Homo sapiens: one gene and its partners. The protein of the gene in region 1 interacts with the protein of each later gene in a biochemical or structural test. Each region holds a gene or a part of one and is shown in the gene's direction. Other genes may lie near its edges.

Region 1 (7,158 bases):
AGGCACCTGTAGTCCCAGCTATTCAGGAGGCTGAGGCCGGAGAATGACGTGAACCTGGGAGGCAGAACTTGCAGTGAGCCGACATCACGCCACTGCACTCCAGCCTGGGCAACAGAGCGAGACTCCATCTCAAAAAAAAAAAAAAAAAAGCAAAAATTAGGCGGGCCATGGTGGCACTTGCCTATAATCTCTGCTACTCAGGAGGCTGAGGCAGGAGAATCACTTGAATCGGGGAGGCAGAGGTTGCACTGAGCTGAGATTGTGCCACTGCACTCTAGCCTCAATGACAGAGGGAGACCCTGTCTCCAAAAAAAAAAAAAAAGTATTTATATCAGTCTATAAGAAAAATACTAACAATCCAATAGAAATATGGATAGAGTATGGAAATAAGCAAATCCTAAAAAAAGAAAATAGATGCTTAATCTCATTAATAAATAGAAATACAAGTTAAAACAATATAATACACCTTGTTACTTCAAAAAACGATTTTTAAACTTACACTTTGATCTAGCAAATTCTACTTTTAGGAGTTTACCCTATGGATATGCTTGTACGAGCCTGCCAAGACATAGTAAATGGCAACGTCTCTATAAAATGGAATACCATGCTATCAGCCTATCCCTATTGATATGCAAAGATGTTCATGAAATATTATTTCATGAGAGAATAGAATGGATTGCTTGGTTTTATTTGTATTAAAAATCAATAAAGTAGATACATGTATAACAACATCTACATAGAAAATGAAGGATATGTTTTAAATTGTTAAATGGAAATCCATCTGGGAAGTGGGTTGGGAAGAGACAGATGTGGGGAACTGGCTGAGGCCTTTTACTTTTTACTTCATAATGTTCTATACCAAGGGTGTCCAATCTTTTGGCTTCCCTGGATCACATTGGAAGAAGAATTGTCCTGGGCCACACATAAAATACACTAACACTATCAATAGCTGATGAGCTTAAAAAAAAAAAAAAAAGAAAAGAAAAAACAAAACCTCAAAAAAAATCTCATAATGTTTTAAGAAAGTTTACAAATTTGTGTTGGGCTACATGTAGAGGACCGTGGGTTGGACAAGCTTGCTCTAGTGGGTTGTGAATTAAAATAATTACTTCTCAGATCTACTGTTTGTATCCTGTAGTGCTCAGAAGCTACAGACTGATTCATCTGTAAAGCTTCCTATAAAATAGTAACTATTCAACTTAGTTCTTATTAAAAAATTTTTTCTCTTTAAAATATTGTAAGTCCCGCCTTTTAAAAAAGGCTATATTCTCTCTAGCAAAGAGGGCAACCATACACACAAAAAAGTTTATTTTAATATTTCTTAAGCTGCCTTGTTGTTTTTATTAATATTATTTTTGTCAGTATTTCATCTCATATTTATTTATACTTCTGATAACTCTCAAAAACACATTCTTTCTACATTTTAGACTTTTTTCCAAAAAGGGGCATAAGAATTTTAAGAGTAATGAATAGAATCCCTGCTTTTATCTCCAGTATACTGAATTTTACCTTATATCCAACCTAAGTCTTATCAAAGCTCCTTACCAAATGCTTGGAAGAAGGTATTTTAGGATACAAATTTATTTTGCAGGTGATGAGTGTACTCCTAACATTAAAGGTCATAGTTAGATAAATGTCACAGAAAGCTCACACTACTGAGCTCAAACATTCATACATGAATTTTATCAAAATTCTACTAAAAGCTATCAGATTCTTGGTTTCCTATTGTTACCAAAGGTTGCTATACTTACAGCAAAAGCTGCTTTATGTTTCTGCCTGATTTACTTAATGCCTCTACCAAATAGTCTTAACTTTATGATTTTCTCTGGAACTGATACAGGAAGCAAGGAGCAGTGTTTTTTAATACTAATATGTGCTGCTTCAGAAGAAATCTCAAGTAATTTTAAAGTATGACAGCATCTTGCTAACAAATATTACTGTCCATGCATAAAAATCAAATGCAGAAAAAATATGCTAGGCTATTTAGAGGAATAGAAATCAAATAGAAAAATGAAACTTGTCCATTTAAAGTGAGATTATGCATTATACATGTGGAGAGCTAAAAGAGACCTAAAAATCATTGGCTCCAACTTACTTTATAGATTAGGAAGCTGTGAACAATAGAGGTAAGATGGCTCCCTTAAGGCCCCAAAGTTAGGTAATGGCTGTGCTAGGACTAGAACTGTGGTCTTCTACTTGCCAGTTGGCTTGTTACACCACTCCAGGATGTGTCTACCTGCATACACATGATTCTGCATAAATTTTTCCAAGCATCCAACCCTATGGTCCAGCAGTTCTACTCCTGGACATGTACCCAATATCCAGATGGGAGCTTATGTCCACCAAAAGACACATAACTAGATTATTCACAGCAGCATTGTTCTTAATAGCCACTGTCTATTGGAAGGAAGGAAGACAGGAAAGGAGGAAAGAAAACCCACATGTTAATCAGCAGTAGAATGGATAGATAAATTATAGTGTATTTACACAATAGAATATTACACAGCAATTTAAAAGAAAGAACTACTGACTCATGGAGCAATATGGATAAATCTCAAAAAGCATATTGTTGAGCAAAAGTAGCTAGACATAAGAAATTATGGAAAGCACTGTGTTATTTTTATGCCTGTTTGTAAGGTCCTTAAGGGCAGAGATCATTTCTCTGCATTTGTAGATCTTTAACACCAAGCACATTATTCAGCACATAATTGGTGCTCAGAGTCCAGGCACAGTGGCTCACGCCTGTAATCCCAGCACTTTGAAAGGCTGAGACAGGAGGATCGCTTGAGCTCAGAAGTTCGACACCAGCTAGATATCATAATGAGACCTCATTGCTACTAAAATTAGCTGGGTGTGGTGTTGCATACCTATAGTCCCAACTACTCAGGAGGTTGAGGCAAGAGGATTGCTTGAGCCCAGGAGTTCGAGGCTGCACTGAGCAATGAATGTGCCACTGCACTTCAGCCAGGGCAACAGAGTGAGACCTTTCCCCCCAGTCCCCCCAAAAATAGATGCTCAATGTGTATTTATTTTAATGGAGAATATATGATATGAAGAAAGACACAAAGGAAGCACCCAGTATTGTTCTGTTGAGAAAGCAGCAGGAAATATTGGGAACAATATTTTAATCCTCAGATGTTTATACCAGAGCACAGCATATGGAAACCTGAAATACTAACACAATGTTGAATATATAACTGACACTTGGCCAGCCAGGTATGATCATGATGAGACTATAGTAATTTTTCAGAACCTTTCAAAACAAGCACCACTAATGGAGTCTATTGTTTGACCCCAGAATTAATCTAAACATGATATCAACTAGATTTGATAGTTTCCTCTATTCATATTTTTTGCCTCAATGAGAAGAAAGTCTTCTCAACTCCCTCCTCTACTTCTTACTCACTGGGACAGGAGTGCTGAGTTGATCAGTCAGTTTCCAGCACACTGATTAGGTTTGCACTTTCAAAGATTTGTTTCTAGGTGTCTAAATAAGCTTATGGTGGAAGAAGACATTCTCTGGCTCCTTTTTCTCCAGCATTGCCAGGTGTGCTGGCCCTTCATTTCATGAGGATGTTGTGTTTGGGATGGAGGAGATGAAGTAGCTTTTCAATCTGCTTTGTTTCCAGGCTCCTTACACCCAACCTGTGCAGGAAAGAGGACCCTACCCCTCCATGGTTCACTGCAGTTTATTAGAGCTCTACAGTGAGGTTCAGGCCACTCCCACTATAATATAAAGCATTACTTTGCTTCATTTGGGCTTTTTATTCTCAAGGTGGGATAGCTAGACCAAGAAAGGATTTGTAAATTCTGGATCTCCTGGCCAATTGCCTTGAAAATGCTTGTAATAGGGCCACCCTCAACTAGAACCTCATTTTCATCCCTAAACACATATCGGAAGAAGTCTTTATGATCTTTCTCCCGCCATTGGTACTTCAGGCATTGACAGGTGTTATTCTGGCGTTACTGCCTATTATTTCTGAATGATTATCATGTGGAGAAACTTCTTAAAGTCTGAAGAAGAGATATGGTCATGTTTGATAAAGATTTATCTTACTAATTATAGATGAGACAAGCCACCTGAATTTGAGTCCCCAAGGAGCCTTAGGAACAAATTGTCAGTCAATTTGCAATCATCTGTAGAAGCAGTGACTGCTGAGCTCCAGTTAACATGGCTTTGTGAGGAAGCGGTTGTTCCAAAGCAAGTTCATTTCATAAAATATTGACTGAGAGAGTTTCCATTCTTCTAGTAGAGTGATCTTATCAACAGGATGAGAAGACATAGCCTGAACAATTTAAGTGGGAAAAATAGTACATGATATTATTTTATATAAAGACATTTGTGAAGTGCCCAATGTGTAATGCCGAGATGGAAAAATCACTGTTTTCCTTAATATTATATTTAAGTTACCTTTTAAAAGTTTATTATTTTGCATCTCAATTTTTTTTGAGAGGTTGAGCTATGTTTCCATTACTGTAATATCTGGGAAAGTTATATGCAGCTTATTGTCACTGAAGCTTTCCAGAAATGTTTTATTTTACCCTAGGGAAAACAAAAGGCTTGTGTTCTTTCCTTTCTTGCTGATAATATCAGTGGAGTGCACAGATTTTGACCCCTGGTACTCTTAATTTACACTGGGGCTTTTCAGATAGATGAAGTTAACTTGCCAATAGGACTTGAATTTCATGTCTTACCCTGTTATGATTTAAAGTACGTGCACATAGGATGATAGCTGATACAATGACATGACAAAAAACATATTAAGAGTTTCTGCCAGCTTTTTGTGAGGTTCTCCCAGAATACAGAAAGAAAGGCAGGAGGTAAATATACATGGAAGCACATGAGTTCATTTTGAATGGTTTTATTCTTTGTCTTCTTGCTCATTTTTACCAAACCCAGAAGTTGCCCCTTCATTGTTCAGTTGTGCTTTGAGCAAATACCCAACCATTATTGTGCAACAGGGTGTCACGAAAAGGGTGATAAATACACCATTTTGATTGCTCTTCTCGAAATTTCACAGTGAGCTGAAATAAATTTTCATTTGTTATTGGCAAGTTTTAAAATCAGACATTATGGAAATTCTTAAGAAAATTGTCTTTTACTCTTTCAGTCTTGCAATGGAATTGTTTATTCTTGATTTAATATCTACCTGTGATATAGATACAATGAAGTCCCAATATTGAGAGAAGAGATATCTCACATGGGAAAAACAGACACTGCATAGGCAAACTTTAAAGTAGTGACTTTAAATTTTGGATGAAATCATGTTGGAAATAAACCTCAGGGAATTCTTAGGAATTGTTTAACCTTCTTGTGTTGGTTTGTTGGTTGCTTTTGCAGTTTAACTCGGCTGCTAAGCAGCTGATAGAATGGGATAAGCCTCCTGTGCCAGGAGTTGATGCTGGAGAATGTTCCTCGGCAGCAGCCCAGAGCAGCACTGCCCCAAAGCACTCCGACACCAAGAAGAACACCAAAAAGCGGCACTCCTTCACTTCCCTCACTATGGCCAACAAGTCCTCCCAGGCATCCCAGAACCGCCACTCCATGGAGATCAGCCCCCCTGTCCTCATCAGCTCCAGCAACCCCACTGCTGCTGCACGGATCAGCGAGCTGTCTGGGCTCTCCTGCAGTGCCCCTTCTCAGGTAAATCCTCAAACAAGTGTTATATAAAAAGAGCTCACCCACAAAAGGATCAACTTACAAACATGTTTGCTCACTGGCTGACAAACATTGCTTATTTTGAACTTCTGAAGATAGTAACTTTTCTGGGAAGCAAAACCTGTCTTCATTTTGTAAGTGGAAAAATGGAGAAGGGAAAGCTAACTTGAGTGTATCAACCCAGAACTAACTACTCTGTCATTTTCAAAGGAAAGATCAGAACTTACAAGATGAGTTATATAATACTTACCAGTTTCACCAAGCAATCACTCAGCCTTACAGAACTTTCTCACAGTACTGCTTTGGGAGATCTTGCCAACTAAAACTTTATCTCCACCCAGATTTAAGATGCCATGGTCCAAACTCGTGACGTTTGTAGTTGCTTGTATCTATGTAACTTACCTTAATATGTAGGCTTCCCAGAATTATAGAGAAGAGAAAAAGAGCAAGGACAGAAAGAAGCATTTAATTTAAATTAGAAATTGACCTCACACTTTCTAAGTTCATTAGTTCATTACAACTTTGGACTGGTATGTAAAAAATAGCCACGCGTTATTCTTAGGTTTATAAAAATACATGGGATGACTGGGGCATTCATTCAATCATTCATTCATTCATTTGGCAGACATTTATTGAGCACTTTACTATTAGACCCTTCTAGGCACTGTGTATACCATGATATCTAAAATATAGCAATTTGCTGTGTTAGGCTTTAATTCTGCACTACAAAAAGAACCTAATTATAACCCTGCCCAAGCCACGGGGCTGCTATCATTATCCACTTAGGTGATGGCTGTATTTTGTTCAACTTAAAGGTCAAAGAATCTAGTTCAAAGCTGCCTGTCACAAGCAGAAGGAATTTCTTTCAAGTCTCATGTTTCATCTTGAAAATTCATGCAGATTTTACATTCTGCTCCACCATATAGCTATGGTGGTTTTTTTTTCTTTAAACATTAAAATGAAATTATGTCCCCTTAAAGAAAAAGAAAGAAATACCAGTCCTGGTCCTCAAAAAGTTTACATTCTAGTAAGTGCCTATTTTGGACCACAGAATGAAAATGTAAAATACAGTTTTTGATATCCCTTGCCATTTTTTTCTCAGCCTCATGTTTGTTTGTTTGTTTGTTTTTAATAGAGATGGGGTCTCACCTTGTTGCCCAGGCTGGTAACAAGCTCTTGGCCTCAAGTGAACATCCTACCTGGGCCTCCCAAAGTGGTGGGATTACAAGTATGAGCCACAGCCTCAGCCTCATTTATTTGACCCTGCTCCTTTAGATTTATACTGCGTGTTTCAAGTTAAATGCATTCACTTTCTGAATGGGATTGTGGGATTGTTGTTTTGTGGCATTTTTAGGTGGTAGGGCCATGAAACTCTTATTGAGAAATAAAGACACGCACAACGCACAACTAGAACATGAGTGCAGTGAAGGCAAGGGTCTTTGTTTTGTACACTGATTATATTCTAAGTGGCAGACATAAGACATGCAGAAAGCACTCAA
Region 2 (7,919 bases), on another chromosome or scaffold:
GCCACCGCCTCCCAGGTTCAAGCGATTCTCCTGCCTCAACCACCCCAGTAGCTGGGATTACAGGTGCCCGCCACCACGCCTGACTATTTTTTTTCTATTTTTAGTAGAGATGATGATTTTTCACTATGTTGGCCAGGCTGGTCTCGAACTCCTGGCCTGAGGTTATCTGCTTGCCTTGGTCTCCCAAAGTGCTGGGATTATAGGCATGAACCACCACTCCTGTCCCCAAATTTCTTTAAAAGGAGCTATCTCACCAGGCGATAACTCAAGAGAGAATCACAGAAATTAGATTGCCTTTTCCCTAGGGGAAGAAAATGCAAAATCACACTCCTAAACTTTCTTTCTTCTGAGTGGAAAGGGATAAGATATCTTAACGTCTTAAGGGGCCCTGAGGCTTGTCACTGCAGGTGAGGGGAAACCACACTACTGGCATATTTGATTTCTCAATGCAGCTGTCACCTCCTGCCTTGCTGCCTCCTTTAATGCCTATGTTGGTTTTACCTGGGCTTGCTCCACTGGTTAGCTTCTCCCTAGTTGCAAGACTACCAGATCATAATCAGTTATTATCTCCCATCCTGATGTGTGAAAAGCTACAGAATTTGTGGGACCCAGTGCAAAATGAAAATGCAAGGCTTCTGTTTAAAATTTATTAAGAATTTAAAGATAATAGCAGAGCATTAAACCAAGCATGGGGCCCCATCCACTACATGGGTCCCACACCCATGAAGCCAGCTTTGATGAAAAAAGGGTTAGGCCAGGTGGTGGCTCGCACCTGTAATCCCAGCACTTTGGGAGGCCGAGGCAGGTGGATCATTTGAAGCCAGGAGTTCGAGACCAGGCTGGCCAACATGGTGAAACCCTGTCTCTACTAAAAATACAAAAACTAGCTTGGCTTGGTGGTGGGCACCTGTAATCCCAGCTACTTGGGAGGCTGAGGCAGGATAATTGCTTGAACCTGGGAGGTGGAGTTGCAGTGAGCGGAGATCATGCCACTGCACTCCAGCCTGGGCAACAGAGCACGACTCCGTCTCAAAAAAGAAAAAAAGGTCAGAGCCTTCTCAGCCGACCAAAACCACTTGCAGAAAGCTGAGTGTGGGGACAATTTATTTCCAAAGCCCTCAACCTCTCATCTTAATATAAAGACAGCTGAGAAAGAAATCACCCTGTATTGTGTGTTATATTAAGATTGACTATTGTGGACTGAATTGAGTCCTCCAAAGAGATGCTGAAGCCCTAACCACCAGTACCTGTGAATGTGGCAGCATTGGGAAATAGGGCCTTTGCAGATGATGGAGTTAAGATGAGGTTATTAGTGTGGGTCCCAATCCATGATGACTGGTACTCTTATGGAAAAAAGAAATGTGGACACAGAGCCAGACATGCACACAGGGAAGATGATGTGAAGAGACCTACAAAAGGAGAACCCATGAGAAGATGAAGACAGGTTGGGGTGATGCTTCTATATGCCAAGGAACGTCAAAGAGTGCCAGCAGGCCGGGGGCGGTGGCTCACGCCTGTAATCCCAGCACTTTGGGAGGCCGAGGTGGACGGATCATGAAGTCAGGAGTTTGAGACCAGCCTGGTCAACATGGTGAAACCCCATCTCTACTAAAAATACAAAAATTAGCCAAGTGTGGTGGTGGGCGCCAGTAGTTCCAGCTACTCAGGAGGCTGAGGCAGGAGAATTGCTTGAACCTGGGAGGTAGAGGTTGCAGTGAGCCAAGATTGTGCCACTGCACTCTGGCCTGTGCATCAGAGCGAGACTCTGTCTCAAAAAAAAAAAAAAAAAAAAATCGGCCAGGCGCCGTGGCTCACGCCTGTAATCCCAGTATGTTGGGAGGCCGAGGCGGGTGGATCACAAAGTCAGGAGATCGAGACCATTCTGGCAAACGGTGAAACCCTGTCCTTACTTAAAAATACAAAAAATTAGCCAGGCGTGGTGGCGGGCACCTGTAGTCCCAGCTACTTGGGAGGCTGAGGCAGGAGAATGGTGTGAACCCGGGAGGCAGAGCTTGCAATGAGCCGAGATCATGCCACTGCACTCCAGCCCAGGCGACAGAGCGAGACTCCGTCTCAAAAAAAAAAAAAGTGCCAGCAAACCACCAGGATAGGAGAGGGGCCTGGAAGATTCTCCCCCGAGGCCTCAGAAGGAACCAACCCTGCCGACACCTTGATCTCAGACTTCCAGTTTCCAGAACCAAGACAATAAATTTCTGTTTCTTAAGCCAGGAGTTCCCAACCTTTTTGACACTAGGGACCAGTTTTGTGGAAGACAGTTTTTCCACAGGCCAGAGGTGGGGTGGGGGGGGCATTGTTTCAGGATGATTCGAGCACATTACATTTATTGTGCACTTTATTTCTATTATTATTACATTGTAATATATAATGAAATAATTATACTACTCACCATGGTGTAGAATCAGTGGGAGCCCTGAGCTTGTTTTCCTACAACTAGATGGTCTCATCTGTGGGTGATAGGAGACAGTGACACCCGAAGTATGGTGCTTATGTCAAGTCTACCCATTTTGGCTGCTGTCACTGCAGAAAACCCTGCTTCACAGAGATGGGATGTTGCAATAGGCCAGGCATGGAGGCTCACATCTGTACTGCTAGCACTTTTGGAGGCCAAGGCAGCTGGATCACTTGAGGCGAGGAGTTCAAGACCAGCCTGGCCAATATAGCACAACCCCATCTGTCTCTACTAAAAATAATAAAAATTATATATATAGCCAAGTGTGGTGGTGCACTCTTGTAATCCTAGCTACTTGGTAGGCGGAGGCATGAGGCACAAGAATGGCTTAAACCAGAGAGGCGGAGGTTGCAGTGAGCCGAGAACGTGCCATTGCACTTCAGCCTGGGCGACAGAGTGAGACCCTGTCTCAAAAAAAAAAAGGATGTTGGAAATGAAAGCAGGCTTTTCAGTGTTTTTGTGGCCATCTCAGGATTAAAGCCTAGACTTTAACCCAGAACGTGGAGATTTGAAGTTGTCTCAAACATACTGTTTTTTTGTTGTTGTTGTTGTTGTGTTTTTGTTTTTTTTTTTTTGAGACGGAGTCTCGCTCTGTTGCCCAGGCTGGAGTGCGATGGCACAATCTCGGCTCACTGCAACCTCCACCTCCCGGGTTCAAGCAACTTTCCTGCCTCAGCCTCCTGAGTAGCTGGGATTACAGGCACGTGCCACCATGCCCGGCTAATTTTTGTATTTTTTAGGAGAGACGGGGTTTCACCATGTTGGTCATGCTGGTCTGGAACTCCTGACCTTGTGATCCACCTGCCTCGGCCTCCCAGAATGTTGGGATTACAGGCGTGAGCCACCTCGCCCAGCCTCAAACATACTTTTAAGGCCACCAGATGCAGCTGTACAACTGAAGTACATACACTTGCCATTGTAAAGCCTGCCACCAGATGCAGCTTGTCACTTGCCACTCACTGATAGTGTTTTGATATGAGTCTGCAAGCAATTGATTTATGATGGCCTCTGTGCAGTGAAACCTCTCTGCTAATGTTAATCCGTATTTGCAGCCACTCTCAGCACTAGCATCAGCAACTCAGCTCCACCTCCCATCATCAGGCATTCGATTCTCGTAAGGAGCACAGCCTAGTTCCCTTGCGTGCACAGTTCACAATAGGGTTCGGCTCCTGTGAGGATCTAATGCCCCCTGATCTAACAGGAGGCTGAGCTCAGGTGGTAATGCAGCGATAGGGAGCAGCTGTAAATACAGATGAAGCTTCGCTGGTGGCTCACCTCCTGCGGTGCCGCCTGGTTCCTAATAGGCCAGGGACTCATAGTGGTCCGTGGCCCAGGGGGGTTGGGGACCCCGTCTTAAGCCATCCAGTTTGTGGCACTTTGTTATGGCAGCTGCAGCAGATGAATATACCCACCAACCAGACCAGGCTCCTCCTGTTACCTTCCTGACCTTGACAAGCTCCTGACAACACCTGAAAAAACAGATGTCCCAAGGGGGTTGGAACAAGGAGGGAGCCGGGGCAATGTCAGTTTTGTTTTTCAAGCCTTTTTTTTTTTTTTTTTTTTTCCTACAGAGGAGGAGGAGGGAACGCCTACAATAAAGAGGCCTTTATGGTCCCACTTCAGGAATCGGAGAACCCCGCCCTCCTCGTCTCAGCCCCAATTTAACGGGTGCATGTGTGAGTATCTTATAAAGTGACGCGTTTTGAGGGGGACTCCAGTGTGAGCAGGACTGTGGCTGACTTGTCAATCATCATTAGGGTGATGTCCCAAACGTTCAAGTCTGAGGCCCAGGGAAATTGGCAACAGCTGCCTGGATGCCTCCATCCTCCCAGCCCAAGGAAAATCTGGCCTTGCTCCTTCGTTGTCTTTCTTAGGAGCACGTGGAGTTCTCCTAGGTGGGCTTGCACTCGGGGTCGCCCAGCCGTTCTTTGAGGGTTCGAGTGGGTAGGCTTCCCCTGTAGGACGGGCTTCCCCGTAGGTTTCCACGTGGGGCCACAGAGGCAGGAAAAGGGGAAGTGGGCACTGACACCTGGGGTGAAAAAGGGTGGGGGTGCGGCTTTGTGAGGAAAGAATTTGCAGAGACTGCTAAACTGGGGTCTGCTAGGATACCCCACTCCCCACCCCCTGCCTCGGGCGCCCTCAGCCACCCGAGCTGGGGGCCTCGCAGGTCTCAGACCAAGCTCCCCGCGCGGCCTGCAGCGCACCCAAACATGGCCACCGAACCCGGGTTCCCGGGGCACAGCCGCGCCTCTGGGTGACGCAGACGCGGCGGGTTGCATCAGCCCGTGCCCACGTGCTCGGTCCGCCCTCTGCCACCCGGATCCGGACGCCGATTGGGCCACGTTGGGAGAGTGCCTCCGCCTCAGCCAATGGGCGGCAGCCACAGAGCGTTCTGTCCGCAGAGCCGGGCGCGGGGCTTCTATAAAAGGCGCCCGAAGCGGGGGCGCGCGCCCCAGAGACGTGAACTGTCGTTGCAGAGATTGCGGGCGGCTGAGACGCCGCCTGCCTGGCACCTAGGAGCGCAGCGGAGCCCCGACACCGCCGCCGCCGCCATGGAGTCCGAGACCGAACCCGAGCCCGTCACGCTCCTGGTGAAGAGCCCCAACCAGCGCCACCGCGACTTGGAGCTGAGTGGCGACCGCGGCTGGAGTGTGGGCCACCTCAAGGCCCACCTGAGCCGCGTCTACCCCGAGCGTCCGGTGAGAGCGGCCCCGACTTCCCGCCCCTAGGCTGTGGCCCCCCGCCCTCTGCTGGGGATGCCACGTCCGGCTGCCCTGTCCTGTGGCCTCCTCCCGCTGACGGCTGCGATCGCTCGGCCGGTCACCTCCCCCAGGGCTGTGGTCTCCCCTTCCCTGCCCCGCCGACGCGGGCGCCCCTCTGTTGCCCAGTAGCCGTCAGTAATCAGCAGCCTGACCTTGGGCGAGTCATTTCACCCTCCAAGCCTGTTTCTCCCCCAGCGGCCAGGCAACTCGGTGTTCCTAATTGGGCTTGCATCCAATGGCTAGAAGTAAGAAAACATCCGTGCTGCAAAATGAGGTTTCTGAACGCAGCCTCTCTGCAGGGAGAGGAGCGGGCAGGTGCCACCCGGGGCCGTGGCTTGAGAAACCTGGGGACCGCCCAGACACTGTGGACGGAAGGCCCCACACCCAGAAGCAGGACGTGGCTCTTCTCCTCCCTGGCCACCTTCCGCCGTGCCCCTCCCTGTCGCACTGGACCGAGCAGCCATTGCCGAGTCCCGGGGTGGAGCCCCGTGCACTTTCTGACCAAGAGCGACTGAGAAGGGAAGCAGGCAGGAGTCGCCTTCAGTCTGGTTTTAGGACGGCAGCCTCTCCATTATTAGCAAGACTTCCTTGCTTTGTTTTGGTTGACACATCTGTCAACATCACCCTTAGCACCGCCTGCCCTGGCCACCACGTGATGAGGCTGTAAGCTGGCCCTTCCTGTATTTACTTTCTGCTCTGATATTATGTAAGTGTCAGCAGTGTTCTTCACTGCCCACGAGCATAATTCTTCATCACACAGGAGAGGGCATCCGGGCAGGAAAAGATAGTGAAGTCGTGAGTTCCAGCTTGTGGTAGCGCCTGTGTCTGTTTTTGTTTCATATGGTCAAGAATGTTTTAGAAGTGAGTTTTCCTTCTGAGTTGTTATTTTGAAATTTGCATATTTATTTAGTAAGCTTGCATTCCATGTCCTCTAGAATTCACCCTGGCACATTTTTCAGTTTCACCATAGCTGCTTCCAAGAAACTGGGTGGCTGTGTTGCCATGAGAATGACTATTGGGTACACAAATTGGTGAAGCAGGTGTAGCCTATGGTTGCATCATATGGCAAAAGGCAGGATTTTGGCGGAGGATTTTTAAGGTCTTCCTTTGATGAGGAATGCCGCTCCCATCTGTTCAGTCTGAAGACCTAACATTGTAAACAAATACCTCTCAGGTATACAAATTTGTGTCTAAAAATTATTATGGCTGAAACATACTTATCATTTGTTTTCTGTAGTAGAAAATGGCATAATATGAGAAGGCCTACTTTGTAATAGTTGTTTGCTTTACTTAATATTTTTCAAATCAGCCATCTGTGTGAAGACTCAATATCAAGTTAGGCCTTTAAAAGGGGGAAAATAATTCAAAACCACTGGCAGCTGTGGTTTTCCGGCCTTTTCTATTGGTTGAACTCTGTAATAAATGCAGGACCCTACATATACAAAAGGTACTGTTTTCCAAATTCACGTATGTATTAGCATTTACCTTTAAAGTTCTCATCCGTCAGAAAAACGGTGAACACAGCATTCAGTATATTTATTTTGGTTTAGTTACACAGTGTCAAAAAGTTCTGATGTATATGGATAAGTAGATGCACTTTTTGCTGTTTTGTTTGTTTAAACAGCTTGCTTTAATTATCTCAAGCTACTTGGCAGGAACACCTTTATTCCAGGTTTCGCATAATCAGTTATTCTGGCAAGAGTAGATTAACACGTTAGTGATCTCCAATAGACAGATTATATGTTAATATTATTTGAGGCCATTATTTTTAAGTACAATTTAGACGGAGTTTCAAATAGATTTTAAAAATGAGATTTGTATAAAAGAGTGTGCAGTCCCTATGGTGTTAAAATCACTGATATGGAGGAGAAGAGGGGTTGGAATTGTGACACTGTGGCAGCAGATGACCTTGGACAAGTCAGTTTTTCAGACTTTCCTCCCTTAAAATAGGGATACTAAATCTCACAGGGTGGTTGTGTATAATGTCACCCACACGCCATCTCCTCTATAACTGCATTTGTATGCCAGGAAATTGTCTGTGAAGGCTTCAGTTTAGAATAGCTTCATATTATTTTGGGGCACTGCTGGGTGATTTTGGTTAAGGCTGGCCTTGGGAGTTCTCTGAGTTTTCTCTGAAACCAAACTCAATTTGGTTGTAGGTTCCCTGTTTGCTGTTTGTTGCTTTTAGTAATAGGAGTCAGTCAGTTTACCTGGGAGTTAAGTTTGGACTGGAGATAATTTGCCATTCTTTTTTTTTTTTTTTTTTTTTTTTTTTGAGATAGGGTCTCACTCTGTCGCCCAGGCTGGAGTGCAGTGACATGATCTTGGCTCACTGCAACCTCTGCCTCCCTGGTTCAAGCGATTCCCCTGCCTCAGCCTCCTGAGTAGTTTGGGTTACAGGCACAAGCCACCACGCCCAGCTAATTTTTGCATTTTTAGTAGAGATGGGGTTTCACCATGTTGGCCAGGCTGGTCTCGAACCCCTGACCTCAGGTGATCTGCCCGCCTTGGCCTCCCACAGTGCTTGGATTACAGGCATGAGCCACCATGCCCAGCCGATAATTTGCCATTCTGTATTTATTTGCGTGTTAGAGACCAGTTAAAGTTAAGACACTTTCTAAATAGAAGTCTTGTATATGGGGCTTTTGAGAAAGTGTTTTCCCGTGATGCTGGGGGGAAACACACAT
Region 3 (7,685 bases), on another chromosome or scaffold:
CACCTGGCCCCTCTGTTGTGTGAATGGGAATGTGCTGCCTTCCTCTAAATCAGACAAGCACCTGGAAAGGCTTTTTGTTTATCTGAATGACTCCTGTTGGAATATTAGTCATGAATAGGATAATATGTTTCAAATGTTCCAAACTTCTTTAAGAGAAAGAGAAAACCGTCTGTTGACTCTGGTCTTCACTCAGGTCCAGCGGCGGGATGCTCCAGGTCCAGTCTGAGGAGTAAATGCTGGGCGTGTAACCTCATCAGTGTTGGGAACCTGGTGAGGCTACACAGCACAGAGGGGCCGGACTGCATCAGGGAAAGAGGAGTTGGGCTGTCTTCTCATTGTCACACACAATCCCACCATGGAGGACTCAGGCTGTCTCATGGCTACAGAGGTAGTGAAGCAGTTGCCAGGCGCCACAGCAGGAACGGAATTTCTCCGTGAAGACAGTGGTAAGGCGGAAGGACTGAGAGTGCATCCCGCTGGGGTACTGGAAGGTGTAGGATTCCATCAGGGCAAACGCTATCATTTGTGCTTTAAGACTAGGATTTGTGGAACAGGGAGAATGCATCCCCTGCCCTCCCTGTTGCTTAGCAACAGTCCTCTTTCTCATTCCCAGCAGGTCCAAAAGGGCCCAGTTTTGAAGATTGGGGGCAAGGAGTGGGGGATGAAGGTAAGATAACTCCCTGGTCTGCATAATAATGAGACATTCTGGCTCCATTGTGCAAAAGGTACCTGCCTTGCAAATGAATGAAGTAGTTAAAAAACACTTCTCCCTGTTTGGGGTTTATTCTGTGAGGATGAATGCTTACCTGGGGGAGACACATGTTTCTCTGTATGTGTTTGTATTTCCACAGCTGTCTGCTGGATCACAAGAGTCAAAGACACGCCTTCAGCCCACACAGGTGGGGAGGCTCAGAATGCCTGCCCCCTAGGGCCTCCACGCTGGACATTGGGTCAGGGAAGCCCCCTTTCCTGAGTTGTTCTGTGGGACTCCAAAGGGCCTCCTGCCAAGCTCTCTGACAGTTCACATCCCATCTGAAGAGCCTCATGCACCAGTCCAGGGCCTCTGAGAAGCAGATGCCAAGAGGGGATTAAAAATGCCAAGATTTTGTTGGAGGAGATGCCCAGGTGAGGAAAGTCAGAGGGAGGCTGTCTGAGGAGTTTTCAGACCAGGACTCAGGGCAGACCCTGAGGGGAGGAGGGAGAGCAGGTTGGGAGGATGCATCCTAGACTGCCATGGAGTCTAAGGAAGATTCCACGGCCGTGCAAGAGTGCTCCAGCCAAAGGCACCCTTGGAGGAGCCCACCTCTCCCGGGGACTGCCTCCCTTCATGTCCTCCTGTGCTCAGTCCCTTCAGAGTGCAGCCCCTTTGGCCTTGGACACTTCCTCTCCCTGCGTTTCGTTGGGCTGCAGGGCGTGTTCTCCTGGCCTCCACACCCAGGCCTGCTCAGGGGTAGGGTTGGGTGAACCTGAGGCTTGGGAATATCCCACTGGGGGGATTGGGAGGCCTGCAAAGGTAGGTAGAGGGCCACGCAGTGAGGGGTGCAGAAGGGAGGGCCTGTGGACAGAGGGGGTGAACCCAAGGACGGCAAGCAGCAGCAGGGACAGGCGTGACCACAGGAGGCCACCTGTGAAGGGAGAAGGCCAGATTTAGCAGGAGCGTGGACTCCCCGCCTGTTGCTCTTTCCCCCACCATGTTGTAGCTCCTTAGTGTGGGTCTCCTCCCACCTCACTTCGCATGGGAACCCTTCTGCAAGTGGCTTCACTTACACCTGTGTCTTGTTCTGTCTGGGCTGCTGTAACAAAATATCTGAGGCTGGGTAATTTATAAACCACAGAGAGTTATGGAGGCTGGAAGTCCAAGACCAAGGCACAGGCAGGTTTGATGTCTGCTGAGGCCTTGACCACTGCATCACATGGTGGAAGGCAGACGGGCAGAAAGAGGACAAACACTGTGTCCTCACAGCAGAAGAGAATGAACCTCCTCCCTCGAGCCCTTTGATAAGGGCCCTAACCCCATCTGGAAGGGCTCTACCTGATGACTTAATCACCTCCTAAAGGCCCTGCCTCTTAAAACTATCTCATGGGGATTATGTTTCAATATATAAATTTTGTGAGACACATTCAGACCATAGCAACCTACTATGTTCTTTTTCCTTATCTGTAATGACTGGTTATGCTTATAAATGTTTGAAAGCAAAAGTGCCTTTTCCGTGAAATTTTGCATCTGTTTCCATTTTATCCCTTCTCTGAGCATCATGGAGACTCAGCTGTCCTGCCCCGGGGACTGGTGTCAGGAACCTGGTGTATGGTCTCCAAGCTACGCTGCTGCTCTGATGCTTCTCATCTCTTTGACTCTTGAGCTGAGGTTGATCCCTCCTACAATCTTGTGTGGTGTTGAGTGGAGGAGGGGACAGGCAGTGAAGGGGCATGTGGCCAGCCCACAGTCACCCACTCTTGCTTCTTGCGAACCCAATCAATGCTTCAAGTGATTACCAGCTGTGAAGTGTGAGGAACAGTGGGAAGAGAGCAACTCAGGAGGGGTGTGGGGTAAGGACTCCTCTCCCTCAGTCTCCTAGTGGGAGATGGCCCTAGGGGGTGGGCTGAGGAGGAAGACAGAAGGCTGACACTCGGAGTAGGTTGGATTTCAACCCTGTTCATTCAATGACAAGTGTATTACATATGCTATCTCTTGAGCTTCCCACTGTAGACTTCTGAGGTGAGAAGCTAGGTAACTTGCAGTTGGTAGAGCAGGGTCTCAACCCCACCACTGAAGTGCAAAGTCTGTGATGTAAAGTTCTGCATTGCCCCGGGACCAGGGTGGCTGGTGAATGGCCAAGAGAAAGTCAGGTCAGCCTGACCTTCTAGGGCAGGAGTCCCCACACCTGGTCTGTGGCCTGCTAGGAACCAGGCTGCACAGAAGGAGGTGAGTGGTAGGTGAGCAAAGCTTCATTTGTATTTTGACCACTCCCTATGGCTCACATTACTGCCTGAGCTCCGCTTCCTGTCAGATCAGCAGCGGCATTACATTCTCACAGGATCCTGAACCCTTTTGTGAACTGCGCATTCGAGGGATCTAGGCTGTGCGCTCCTTATGAGAATCTAACGCCTGATGATCTGTCACTGTCTCCCATCACCCCCAGATGGGACTGTCTAGTTGCAAGAAAACAAGCTCAGGGCTCCCACTGATTCGACATTATGGTGGTGTTGTATAATTATTTCATTATATATTAGAATATAATACATAATATATATTATATGATATATTAGAATATAATACGTAATATATGTTATATAATATTTAGAATATAATATGTAATATATGTTATATAATATTTAGAATATAATACGTAATATATGTTATATAATATATTAGAATATAATACGTAATATATGTTATATAATATATTAGAATATAATACGTAATATATGTTATATAATATATTAGAATATAATACGTAATATATGTTATATAATATATTAGAATATAATACGTAATATATATTATATAACATATTAGAATATAATACGTAATATATGTTATATAATATATTAGAATATAATACATAATATATATTATATTATATATTAGAATATAATACAGAATATATATTATATATTAGAATATAATACATAATATATATTATATATTAGAATATAATACAGAATATATATTATATATTAGAATATAATACAGAATATATGTTATATAATATATTAGAATATAATACAGAATATATGTTATATAATATATTAGAATATAATACAGAATATATGTTATAGAGTATATTAGAATATAATACATAATATATGTTATATAATATATTAGAATATAATACATAATATATATTATATTATATATTAGAATATAATACATAATGAAATAAGGAATATAATAGAATATTATTTCATAGAATAGAATAGAATATTATTTCCTTCTATAATAGAATAGAATATTTCATTATTTCATCCCATATTCATTATTTCATTCTATAATATTATAGAATAGAATAGAATATTATATAATGTAATAGAATATTATTTCATTATATATTAGAATATAATATATAATGAAATAAGGAATATAATAGAATATAATAGAAGTAAAGTAATTATTATAAGTAAACACAGTAGAAACAAAGTTCACAATAAATGTCATGTGTTTGAATCATCTCGAAACCATCCTCCCCCACCACCTCCCTGGTCCATGGAAAAAATGTCTCCCATGAAACTGGTCCCTGGTGCCAAAAAGGTTGGGGACTGCTGTTCTAGGGCCACTGAGTGATTCACAGGACAGGAGACATTTGTGAGGGGCTCCTTGGGGACCCCTACTTCCCTGCCCTGTAACATCCAGCCTCATGTGCGCACGTGTTCAACTTCATGCCTTTGACTTAGACACATCGACATGAGCATACCGGCCTTCTGGTTCCAAGCCAGGGTTCCATAAACAAATCCTTCTTAGTTAGCCTTGGTAGCTCAACACCTTTGGTATCTCACTCACTTAACTGCCACGCCTACTCTTGTTGGATCCGGTTATAAAGTAAACTATGTTCTTTGAGAACTGTTGCATACAGATGAGTTGGCAGCCGGTCTGAGCTGGCCCACAGACTCATAAAATCAACAGGGCCTCGGGTACCCTCACCTAGCATATCCAAACTCTTGCATCAAAGGTGCAGGGACTTGCTCACATCGAGAATCTGGTTGCTTTCTTGGAGACCAAGAAAATGAGTTTTTGTTTCTACATTTACTCCAGCAATCCATGAGGTAAGAGGAGAAACACCTCATTGTCTCTTTGTAGGAAAAAGAAGTTAATTCTTGTGAAAATTTAGACCTCTTTTCCCCGCCTCAAATCTAGGCAGACTTGTCTGTCCACTCCTGGGGGATAGATAGAAGCATGGTTTTAACTCACTCACTGGATGCTTTTGGTGTGCTGGTTACATGTGGATTATTAGCTGTGTGCTGCATCTTGCCTTCCCTGGGTCACTCCGCAGCCCTGGGGCTGGAGGGCAGTAAGAATCTTTGGTTGCATCATGCCTGATTCCAAAGTCTTCTTTTGGTGGCAGAGATGTATGTAGGGTTTTCATCTCTGGTGGCATCCTTTCAATTGTAGCAAGACCTTGCCTAGTAACACAACCTCTGCCAAGCCGTTTCCATCTTTAAGGTAGAGGATCAAGGTGCTAGTGGGGTCTATTATGGAAAACATATATCAGGAAAAGGCAAGAGTTAGCCAGACATTTTGATTACCTTCACCCAAATGTCTTTCTTTCATTTTCTGATGTAGGACTTTATAGGAATTTTGCACCATTCTGAATGGATACATTTGGATTTCTCAACATTTGTTCAGCTTCCTAATGACTGTTGTGACAATTGCTCTATACCAGTGAATGCCAACTGTTTATCTCTGCTCTGAACAGGTATGGAGCCCCTTCTCCCAATATCTGTATCTTACAGATTTGGTGCATAGACGCTTAAAAGGAGTTGGTCTTTCGCAACCAGCAATCTTTAGGAAAAATGATTGAATTTTTCTCCTTTTAGCTGGGCTTACAAAATGGAGCAAAACATAGTGATTGTGCTATGGACCTTTTATGGACAGGGACTTGGCAGAGCCACTCACTGGATGCTTTTGATCTGCTGGTTGTACCTGGATTATTAGTTGCGAGCTGCACGCTGCCTTCCCTGGGCCATTCCGTAGCCCTGGGGCTGGAGGGCAGTTAGAATCTTTGGTTGAATCTTCGGTTACATTGGAGGAGCTGCCCAGTCTTTGTGGGCTCCCTTCAGTCATGGGCTTGGCTTGTGTTGTCTTACTCTACACTGTTTAGTGTAAATGGATTCTCACTAAGTCAGCTTCAGCTTTTAAGAGCATGATGGGGTGGAGATATCTGGGAACGTATGGGCCATCAGAAAAGCATTTTTTTATACTCAAGTCATGAAGGTGGATTTCTTCTGTGTAAGGAGGTGCACCAAGTCAGTGTAGGTGCAAGACTGCCCTTGTAAAGAAGCAGAGTATGTGAATTCCTTGTGAGTGGGTCTTAATCTTTAATGCTTTAATGACTTTTGGTTTGCCTGATTTTTTTTAATATAAGAAGTTTGTAATTGCCAAGCATGCTTTTCTGTGAAGAGCTAAGTCTCAAAATTCCCCATTCACGTTCTTTTCCTTTCCTCAGTAATGTGTTTTTCTGTGCTAGGTTATGAGTCTACCCTGCACCTTGTCACAGCTCAGTGATTGTCCAGGGATTCAGCTGTGACTCACATGCTTTGCCTTTTACTTGCTCCAGGGTTTCCATGCATTGAAGGCTTCCTGGTGCCCTCTCAGTGGAATTGCTTCTGGCCTGGCAGTTTGATCCTGAGGGTGACCCAAATGTTTCTCCCCTTGGCTCCATAATTTAAGATGCCAGTGATGACTATTGTCTTTCTTCTCTTCATTCTTGTCTTTCTCATGACTATTATTATTATACATACAGGTTTTTTTCTTCATTTGCCTTTCAACAAGCTTGTAATTAGAACTCATTGTGTTTTGGATGCTAGGTCCTGGGAAACCACTGAATGGCTTGGGAAATGCTTTGCTCTAGAGGGCAGGTACTTGGGCTAGGGGCTATGTGCATGGAAACAGGCTCTCACACGCTAATGGGAGAGATACCTGATGAGTGGGGACTGTGACACAGAAATGTAGCTCATAGTATCATCGCTGCCTGCACAGAAAAGTACATCATACTTTTCCTACAGAGGACCTCATGGAAGCATGATCCTAAATGCGCTGGGTGGGCAGGAAGGGGCCTACTGGAGGCAGGGGGAAGAACATTCTAGAACAAGGAAATGGCATTTACAAAAATATGCAAGAATGAGAGAGAGCATGACTTACACAGGGAATACCAGGCTGGTGTGGCTGAGGGTGGGTGGCCAGGGGAGGGGTGAGGGAAGCTGCAGGGTGCCACGATGAAGGACCTAGTATGTGATGCTGAGGAACTTGGGCAGTGTCCGGAAGGTGGTGAGAACCGGGGTAAGATCTTATTTACATTGTGGAAGAGTTGCTCTGCCTGCACAGTGCAAGGTGGACTAGAGTAGGGTAAGACCACGGCCGGGTAATCAGGGAGGAGATTACCAAGAGGGAGAAGACACAAAGTCTGGTGGCCAATCAGCTGCAGAGAGTGATGGGGACAGGCGAGGATGAAGTGGAGCTCTGAAACAGGAGCCAGAGACTCCCAAAGTCCGCAAAAAGAGCACACTTTGAATGGCACAGACCCTTTTCCTTCCACTCACCCTCCCACATTCAAGACTGTGATGACCTAGGCTCAAGCCAAAAGTATACAGAAAAGGGCCTAGGCTTTCCCAATCTGCTCTTTCTCCTGAAATATATATGGTTCAGGAATAGTATTAGTACTGCTGTGAAATAGCAAAAAGTGGTTGGCTCGATTATGTGGTTCAGAAATCATCATGAACAAGCAGGGTGTGCAGAAATTGGAAAAAGAAAACAACAAAAACAAACATCTTCAAAAAATGCTGAAGAAAAAAATTAGTGTAGAGACATATAAAAGATAGACCCCTAGAAAAGTCAACAATAGGCCTGGTGCAGTGGCTTACACCTGTAATCCCAGCACTTTTGGTGGCTGAGGCTCATCTGAGGTCAAGATTTCAAGACCAGCCTGGCCAACATGGAAAAACCTCATCTGTCTAAAAATTTGAAAATTAGC

Evidence for each region.
Region 2: the proteins of SH3RF1 (region 1) and HERPUD1 form a complex in vitro, tested with the Homo sapiens proteins (one study listed by BioGRID).
Region 3: the proteins of SH3RF1 (region 1) and KCNJ1 form a complex in vitro, tested with the Homo sapiens proteins (one study listed by BioGRID).

Annotation. Positions count from the first base shown.
Region 1 is NC_000004.12:169,134,804-169,141,961, reverse strand, and holds part of SH3RF1 (E3 ubiquitin-protein ligase SH3RF1), read left to right. Parts: intron 1-5,341; coding exon 5,342-5,644; intron 5,645-7,158. UniProt on the Homo sapiens protein: Has E3 ubiquitin-protein ligase activity. In the absence of an external substrate, it can catalyze self-ubiquitination. Stimulates ubiquitination of potassium channel KCNJ1, enhancing it's dynamin-dependent and clathrin-independent endocytosis.
Region 2 is NC_000016.10:56,927,223-56,935,141, forward strand, and holds the start of HERPUD1 (homocysteine-responsive endoplasmic reticulum-resident ubiquitin-like domain member 1 protein), read left to right. Parts: upstream 1-4,919; 5' UTR 4,920-5,022; coding exon 5,023-5,169; exon of another isoform or gene 5,170-6,072; coding exon of another isoform or gene 6,073-6,093; intron 6,094-7,919. UniProt on the Homo sapiens protein: Component of the endoplasmic reticulum quality control (ERQC) system also called ER-associated degradation (ERAD) involved in ubiquitin-dependent degradation of misfolded endoplasmic reticulum proteins.
Region 3 is NC_000011.10:128,864,249-128,871,933, reverse strand, and holds the start of KCNJ1 (ATP-sensitive inward rectifier potassium channel 1), read left to right. Parts: upstream 1-4,637; 5' UTR 4,638-4,761; exon of another isoform or gene 4,762-5,184; intron 5,185-5,278; exon of another isoform or gene 5,279-5,381; coding exon of another isoform or gene 5,382-5,411; intron 5,412-7,685. UniProt on the Homo sapiens protein: Inward rectifier potassium channels are characterized by a greater tendency to allow potassium to flow into the cell rather than out of it.